Linked DNA regions of Homo sapiens. The protein of the gene in region 2 interacts with the protein of the main gene of each other region in a pairwise test. Each region holds a gene or a part of one and is shown on either strand. Other genes may lie near its edges.

What was found.
Region 1: the proteins of IL9R (region 2) and CRADD interact in a two-hybrid assay, tested with the Homo sapiens proteins (one large-scale study listed by BioGRID and IntAct).

The regions. Positions count from the first base shown.
Region 1 is NC_000012.12:93,675,688-93,680,262, reverse strand, and holds the start of CRADD (death domain-containing protein CRADD), read right to left. Parts: upstream 2,889-4,575; 5' UTR 2,791-2,888; intron 2,693-2,790; exon of another isoform or gene 2,235-2,692; intron 1,495-2,234; 5' UTR 1,489-1,494; coding exon 1,191-1,488; intron 1-1,190. UniProt on the Homo sapiens protein: Adapter protein that associates with PIDD1 and the caspase CASP2 to form the PIDDosome, a complex that activates CASP2 and triggers apoptosis.
Region 2 is NC_000023.11:156,000,390-156,004,195, reverse strand, and holds part of IL9R (interleukin-9 receptor isoform 1 precursor), read right to left. Parts: intron 2,867-3,806; exon of another isoform or gene 2,789-2,866; coding exon of another isoform or gene 2,688-2,788; exon of another isoform or gene 1,328-2,687; coding exon of another isoform or gene 1,291-1,327; coding exon 1,177-1,290; intron 748-1,176; coding exon 636-747; intron 520-635; coding exon 341-519; intron 1-340.

The DNA.
Region 1 (4,575 bases), on a different chromosome or scaffold from region 2:
AGAACCTTGATTCTCTAACTTTGTTAAAAATTTGCAAGCCAACTTTCAATTACTTTTTTTTTTCAATTTTTAATTTTTGCCAGTTCAGTTCTCTGCCCCTCTATCTTTGTGAAACAGAGTCAAGGGAGGTTAAGAAAAAGCAAGTGTTTCCATATCACATCTTCTTCCTGCTACAAGCCAGGCTAACAGAACCAGAACTGTTTCTCTCTTCTCCAGCTTCCAATTCTCCTTCAAATTAAACTGAGACCCTCCCCAAACTATTGCTCTTTGCAAAATTAAATACTCCAGTGTCTGAACAAAGCTAAACTAAAAAGGACACTTTAAACGAATAACCTTTAAAAACAAACTAAGTCAGCCTTCAAAATAATCCCCTTTGGCCACACAGGACAGCCCAGGGGACAGGTGCAGGGCATGCCTTCCTAGAGGCTGTCTCCTCCTCCATGAATCTGACCTTTTCCAGCTGGTAGCTCTGGCACCTCACAAATCAGTTGTCAGTAGGCCGAATGCCTGCTTTCCCATCTGCACTTTCCAAATGGCTCCTGATGCCAACGGCTGAGATATGACCTGGCTCTCTGATGAGAACATGCTTCCCAAGTGACATGCCAGGTTTCCTGGAAGCATTTCTAAATGCATTCTCTGAGCTCCCTCCCTCACCTCCCAGTCACGGTTCATTCTTCCTTCCCTGCACTTCCTAATGCCACCTCCTGATCCTATTCCTCCAACGTCATGTCCCTTCAGTCCCAAATCCTTACCCACTTTCATCAACCATTGACCCTTGTCCTGCCTTACATCCCAACTTCAAATCCAAAGGGCATAGTTCTGGCTAGGTGTGGTGGCTCACGTCTGTAATCCCAGCACTTTGGGAGGCGGAGGTGGGTGGATCACCTGAGGTACGGAGTTCGAGACCAGCCTGGCCAACATGATGAAACCCCATCTCTACTAAAAATACAAAACTTAGCAGGGCATGGTGGCAAATGCCTGTATTCCCAGCAACTCGGGAGGCTGAAGCAAGTGAATTGCTTGAACCCAGGAAGCAGAGGTTGCAGTGAGCCGAGATCACACCATTGCACTCCAGCCTGGGCAACAGAGCAAGACTCTGTCTCAAAAACAAACAAACAAATAAACAAAAAAGCAAAGAGCATAGTTACAACATTTTGGAGCTGGTTCAAAGTGATCTTTCTGAGGCCTACCTGCAGGCAGGTCGGTCATGGCCTCTTCCCTTGCCTTCTTCAGCTTCTCCCTGACCCAGGGAAACTCCTGTAGGGAATCTAGGAATGTATCAAATGCTTTAGGGCCCCTGGAAGGTAGGATATCCAGCAGGAGCATTGTTTTCCGGAGGCCTGTGGTTTGAGCATTGATTTCTTGAATATGGTTTTCCGTCAAGATTCCTTCCTGGTAGAGGTACTGAAGAACCAGTCCCTCCACCAATACCTCTGCACCCAGCTCCAGGCGAAGTGAGCGGAGTACTTGTTTGTCTCTGGCCTCCATTTCTCCCTGGAAAGAGCCAAAATCACAGCTCAAATTACAGACATGTTGATGTGGCCCTAAAGACAGTGTCACTGCAATGTAAGTTCCTTCAGGTCAAGCACATCTTTAAACCATAGCAGACTGCCAGGTCATGGTATTTAATTCACTGATTAAGCCAAGCCAGGTTAATTTTGAATGTTTCCTAACATAATGAACAACAATGAAGATGAATCATCTTTTCTGTTTCTGCTTTTCACACAATGGGGTCCCAGCTCAATTCCTCGTTCAATAAAGAAATTTGGAAAAAGAAAAAAAAAAAGTGGGTCAGAGACCCTTCTGAACAAGCAATTTTTATCTGAAGATTACAGAGCAGCACTAATTTTAACACGCTGGAGAAGAAATGGTGGTTTTATTTTCACATTGCCCTCATCAGACCTGCACCACCACCACCAAGGCAGAAACTGCCAAGGTGGACGCAGGTCCCCTTTTTTTGATCACAAGTATTTGCAAAACCTGATCAGTAATAGGAGTGCAGGACAGAAATCAGCAGGTTCAGAATTTAAGGCTCTTTTCGCTAAAAGTCCTCTACACGATCACCTTTAAGAAAATTGTTGTTTGTGCCCAGTCTACAATAAACTTTACACAATATACAGTCACAGACTCCATTCCTTCCCACTAAGAATTCCGAATCTCCAGCACAACACTGTCGTGGCCGCACATGCATGGGACATTTTATGGGATTTTTTTCTTTCAAAAAAAGCACACACCCCAGCACTGGTCAGTAGCCAGGCACGATTTGAAGGTGCAGTTCCACCACCCCTGCACCAGTGTGCTGTGGCTTGGTTGTGTGTAAGGCAGTGAAGGTTAAGTGACCGGGAAGGCAGGCAGGGATGACAGATGGGGCTTCAGACACACCCGGGCAGTACGACCACGGCTAGGCGACACCCGATCCCACACTCCCCCTCGCAACCCTGTAAAGTTCAGGAGGTGACAGGTGAGGAGGGGAGGTGTTCACGTTTGGCCGTGAGCGCCCATTGGGAACTATTTAAAAAGGCTCTGCTTCGGCCGCTGAAACCCTTGTATCAAACAGGAAGACTACGGGCGGTTTCTGCGGCAACTTGACCCGCTAAAGAGGGAGTGCTGGGAATGAACTAAAGAGCGGACCAAGGGGAGAGCGGGCCTCCGGCACTGCCGCAGCCACCCAGCCTTGGCCCGGATCGGAAATGCGGAGCAAGTTAGCGGGGCGGGGAAGCCCCCGCAGGGCCCAGGTCGCAGACGCTACAATGCAGGACTTTCAAAGAAAGATGGATTCCTGTTACTTACGTCTGCAACCACGTATCTTTGGGGCGGGGGAGAAAAACTGCAACCGGAATCCTGACTGTTAGGGAACCTGCCCCATAAGCACCATCTTTGTTAATGGCGAAAACCCTAAACAGGAAGTGTTGACACCATCTTTGTTGAGGGCAAGTACAGGAAGTGCTGTCGCCATTTTTATTGAGCGTTCAAGGGTCGGATCGAAGCTCTTCCCGCCATGCTTACTGTGGGTAAACAATTCAATAGCGGGGAGATGGACAACCGTAGTGTCACTTAAAGGGTATCTAAGTAATGGAGTAATTGAATCATTGCATTTTAACACAGTAACTCCATCAGGGCCTCGCACACAATTGACCTAACAGAGAGGCAGGTCAAAAGCCACCCTAGTAGAGAAGCCTTCTCTGACCTATCTGATTAAAACGGCAAGACAGCTGCGCTCATTTCCTGCACTCCCCATTAACCAGCTTTATTTTTTACGCATCACCATCTTATTAAAACTTTTCACTTATTCATTTGTTTATCCTTCTGCTTCCCTCCATTAAAATGCAAGGTCATTTATTTATATCAAGGGTTCCTGCCCGCAAAGAGTTTACAAATCTGTCAGTCAGGATTTCATTGCAGCACTCAGCTAGTTACTCCTAGTCAGAAAGGGATTCGTTAGGGGGAATTGGGGACATTCGAAATCATTGGAAAGGCTGGAGAAGGGCTGAGCTGAACATCCATGGATGACTACCTAGATAAGATTGCTGATTGTGGCTGCTGCCCACAATCAGGAAGATGGCGTCAGGAAGTTGCCATGCCTGGTCCCCAACCTCCTCTCAACACCGACAGAACAATTAACAGGACACTGGAACAGTGCTGCAAAAAACGGTGGTCTCCACGGCTGCATTTGCCAGCAGCAAGAAAACAGCACCTGCAAATCTTGCTTTGCTGCGTGCCATTGGTGAGACCAATCTGACATGCAGAATATTAGCAGCAAGGATGTCTAGAGCATGTAGTTGGTAGCTTTCCAGCTTGTGAAACACAAAAAGGTATAGTAAATGAGGGAAGGCCTGACACTTAAAGCCAATCTACTGCATCCACCACATTTTCAATGTGGAAAGCAAGAAAAAATGCATGACCCAAATACAGAGAAACACAGCAATGCCAAATTGGGTGTCCTTCCTCACATTCCTTTGTGAAGCGAGGCAGGCGATCAATAAATACATTCATTGATTCATTTTTAAATCAATTGGATGATACATACAGAAAGTCATATGCTTACTAAAAATCAGTTGACAGTACAGGGGGAAAAAACTCCTAAAATATTATTTCTGCAAAGGTTTTCACAGCCAAACCCTTTGGTGGAAAATGAAAATATCTTTGTTAAGCAAATCAATGGAGAACAGTTCTGAACCTCCCTCCTCAAAACCTTCTAAAAATTGTATTCAATTTACAGCATTACTATGCCAGTTACCATTTTACTACACCGTTAATGACAGTATTTTTACCTATGTGGCAAGTATTATTATTATTACAGTCATGCATTGCATAACAATATTTGGGTCAATGACAGACTGCATATATGATGGTGGTCAGAGCAATAGGCTATGCTATATGGCCTAAGTATGTAGTAGGCTATACCATCTAGGTTTGCATAAGTACATCCTATTTTGTTTGCACAATGACACATTTTTCACAATGTATCTCCACTGTTACAACTGTTTTAGCATTTGCATGTATAAAGACTGTGGAATCAGAATGGTCAATTGTCTTAGGCAAAATCTCACAGCTAATATAGAGCAAAACTTGAAG
Region 2 (3,806 bases):
TTCCCTTTCCTTCACAGTCTGCTGCTGGAAGCTTTTCCCAGCATCTTATTGGAGTCCTTCCTGGTATGACTGAAGTGCATTTCACATGACTCAAGTGCCAGCCCCTGCCCCAACTAGCAGCCGTGCATGTTTATTTCCTGCCAAAACCCTGCCCCTGCAGTAACCATATGGGCCCTCCCCTCCCAAGGGCCAAGCCTGCCCCCAGCCCTGGATCTCACTCGGCTGGGACTGAGAACACTCACTGGGCCACTCACAGGCTGCAAGGCCCTGCTCCAAACCCCCAAGCAGCCAGGATGTTCTTGCCAAGCGGCCCCGCCCCAGACCTATAGCTGCTGCTCACCGTGTCTCCGGGGCAGGTACTCCGGGTCCACCAGGCTGACCTGCTCCCTCCCAGACATGCAGTGGTGGAAAGTGATGGTGAAATTGTCAGATGGCACGAGCACTGCCTCAGGTGGCAGCACGACGGTGCACTCACTGCCCCGCAAGATGCACTTATGTGTGCCGCCAGGAGCCTGGTTGCTGGAAAGGGCATTTGTCAGCACCACGGGGCTGCTACACTGTCCTGGCATAGCTGCTTCAATCCTGGGGAACTCACCCTCATCCCTGTCCAGGTGGGCATGGCCCTCCATGCTCACCTGGTGAAGAGGAGCCAGGGGCTGGAGCCCTGTCCCAGCTCTGGGGCAGACCAGTGGCAATCGATCCTGAGAATGTTGTTGGTGAGGCAGGTGAAGGTTCTAGACCTTGGCCCTGGAGACAGTGACCATCAGGAGCCCACGGTAAGTACTTCAGGCCAGAGCTGAGCTCGGGGGTTGGGGAGGATCTGACAGCTGACACCCTAGCAGGGCAGTCACCAGTAAATGATCCCAGAATCTGTCCAGGGAAGCACTGGGAGGCCTGGGAAGTGATGGGCTCTGACCTGTGGTACACGGGCAAGTCAGATCTGGAGAGGCGTCAAGAGAGTGAAGGAAGGGAGACTACAGTCGGTCCAGGGAATGAAGGTAGGGAGGTAAAAGTAGGGAGACTAGAGACTGAGGTCCAGGCTGACCCCTAGAGGACATGCCCCAGCACAGTTTGGGCCAAACCTTTCCCTAGAGGCTTGACATCGGACAACCCAGTCCCCCAAACATGCCCTAGTTCTCCACCCACCTCATACAGACATTAGTGCCCAGCCCTCACCTTGTCCTTCCCCTGTGACAGAGACTCCCAAGCAGACACAGGTGCAGATGCAGATGCAGGCCAGGAGCCAGGTGCCCATGTCTCGCCTCAGGGCCTCACTCTCCAAGGTCCAGCCTGCAAGGGACTGGGCTGAGGGCCCTGTGCAAATCATCCCTCTCTGGAGGGGTGCTCCCCATGAATTGCTCCCCAGCAGAGTGCTCCATGGGTCCCCACCTGCACTCACACAGTGTCCTGTGTCCTAACACTCACACAGTGTCCAGCGTCCTGGACCACTGTCCAGGCTTTACTGATAAGGAACTGAGCTCAGAAAGGCCATTTGACTCAGCCAAAGACTCATGGCTGCAGGGTGTAAGGAACACCCTCAAACTTAGATCCTGGCCTCTGACTCAGCTAGGTCTCCACATCTGCCGAGAAGACTCCTCTCTGGGACAGTCATCCTCTGCCAGCCCATCCCCCATTCCCGGGCCCAGGCCCCATCCTGCAGGGGAGTCAGGGTTGGGGGAACTGGTCACTACCAACAACCACCATAGGTACATTTTCTACTTTAATTCTCACAACAGCTCTGTAAGGGAGAAGCACTGTCCCCGTTCACAGGCAAGGAACTGAGTCCCAAGGAGGGGAAATGACTTGCCCAGGGTCACACAGACAAATTCTAAGCAAATTTTTTTTTTTGAGACAGTCTCCCTCTGTCACCCAGGCTAGAGTGCAGTGGTGTGATCTTGGCTCACTGCAACCTCCGCCTCCTGGGTTCAAGTGATTATCCTGCCTCAGCCTCCCGAGTAGCTGGGATTACAGGCATCTCCCGCCATGCCCAGCTAATTTTTTTTTTTTTGTATTTTTAGTAGAGACGGGGTTTCACCATGTTGGCCAGGCTAGTCTTGACCTCCTGACCTCAAGGGATCCACCTGCCTTGGCCTCCCAAAGTGTTGGGATTACAGGCGTGAGCACCAGACCCAGCCTCTATGCATTCTCTCTCCCTTTTGTCCTCTTAAATAAAGACCCATCCAACTGTTCTGCCCCAGAAAGGTGGACGAGGGTGGCAGCAGGGTATCCATGCAACAGATGGCACTTTCTGAACTCTGTTGCACCCCTGTTCCAAGGCACCTGCAAAGAAGAGCAACACCAGAAGGGCAAAGCCCCCGGATGCTGGAGCGTGAGGCCTGAGCCCCAGGATCCCTAGGGGAGCCAGAGGTTGGCTAGAGATGAGGGGCTGGGTGTCAGGAAGTGCTTGGGTGTGGGAAGGCCGCTGACGCCCTATCACCCCATTTGCAACTCCAGATGGTACACCGATAGCCCCTAGGCAGGAAGCAGGGCCAGCCTGGTTATACAAGACTGATTACTGATAGGAGGAGGAAAAAACCAGACACGCACACAGACTTACAGCCTTAAAGGACCGCACAAACCAATGGGCAGCAGGCACTACTCTAACCCCACTCTGCCCCACTCCCGGCAGCGTATACAGGTACCCATAGGACAGTCCCCTGTTAAGACTGATGATCAGGAAGCCTCACCCTTTCCTAGAATGGAGCGTGCAGCCTGGAACCACCAGCCACAGCATGAAACACCGTGGCAAGTTCTCTGCAGCAGTGTCTGTCCGTTCTTGCAGCAGTTACTGGAAAGGTGGGAATGGGGAAGGCAGTCAGCCTGCTCTTGGGATATGTGAGGGCAGGGTTGGAGTCACCACCAGGACCTGGGGAAGCACAGGCACAACGGCCACAGCTGAGAGCTGACCCAGGCCCCAGAATGGACAACTGCTGCCCCAGCAGTGGAGAAACACCCACATCTATGTAGAATCAGGCCAGGCCAGCCACAGGCTAACCCAGGAGCAGACGGCTTGAGAGCAGGGAGTGGGATGGCTCCAAGCTCAGCAGGCCTCGTTTCTAGACAGGGAAGGGGGATGGTAGGGCAGGATCCACATGTGACACCTGAGAGCTACAAAGTAGGACCGGAGAGTTGGGTACAGCGACAAGGGGGTATGGCCATCTGAGGGGAAGTTCTCTGCTTTTCCTCTGCACTGAAAACTTACATCTGTACCTGGTAAGCTGAGCAGGGCAGGGTCACCACCCTCCTACAGATGAAGAAACTGAGGCTCAGAGACCTGGGACCTGCCCAATACCTGGCTCCTGACACCTCTCTTCTTGGCCCATTCCCACCAGCTTCCACATAAGCCTGTGAACTTCCCGAGGGCAGTGCCTGCGAGGCACCACTCAGCACATGCCCCAGCAGAAGGCACCACAGTGCTTTATAAATGGGGTGGAGCTGCAGGCAGAGCTGCCTTCCCCCATCCTTGACCACAGGGCCAGGCAGTCAGGGCAGATGCATACACCCTTACTCACAGGCTCCCTGCTCCTGAATGTCACCAGGGAAGCCTCACCACAGCTCAGACAACACCTGGTAACAGGCCGGTTGTGAGAGCAGGAGGGGAAACCAGTGTCTGCCACCTGGGACAGAGCTGCCCCTGACACCCCCAGTCCCGCTGGGGAGCCTGGCTGACATCACTGCCCAGCACAGCCTATCCCGCCTTGGATCTGTGGACATAGCCTTCAGCCCATGATCACTTTGGTCTGTTCTCAGAGCCCCACCCATTCCATGGCCTCAGTGTCAAAGTCTGGCCCAGATGCCTACTAGGC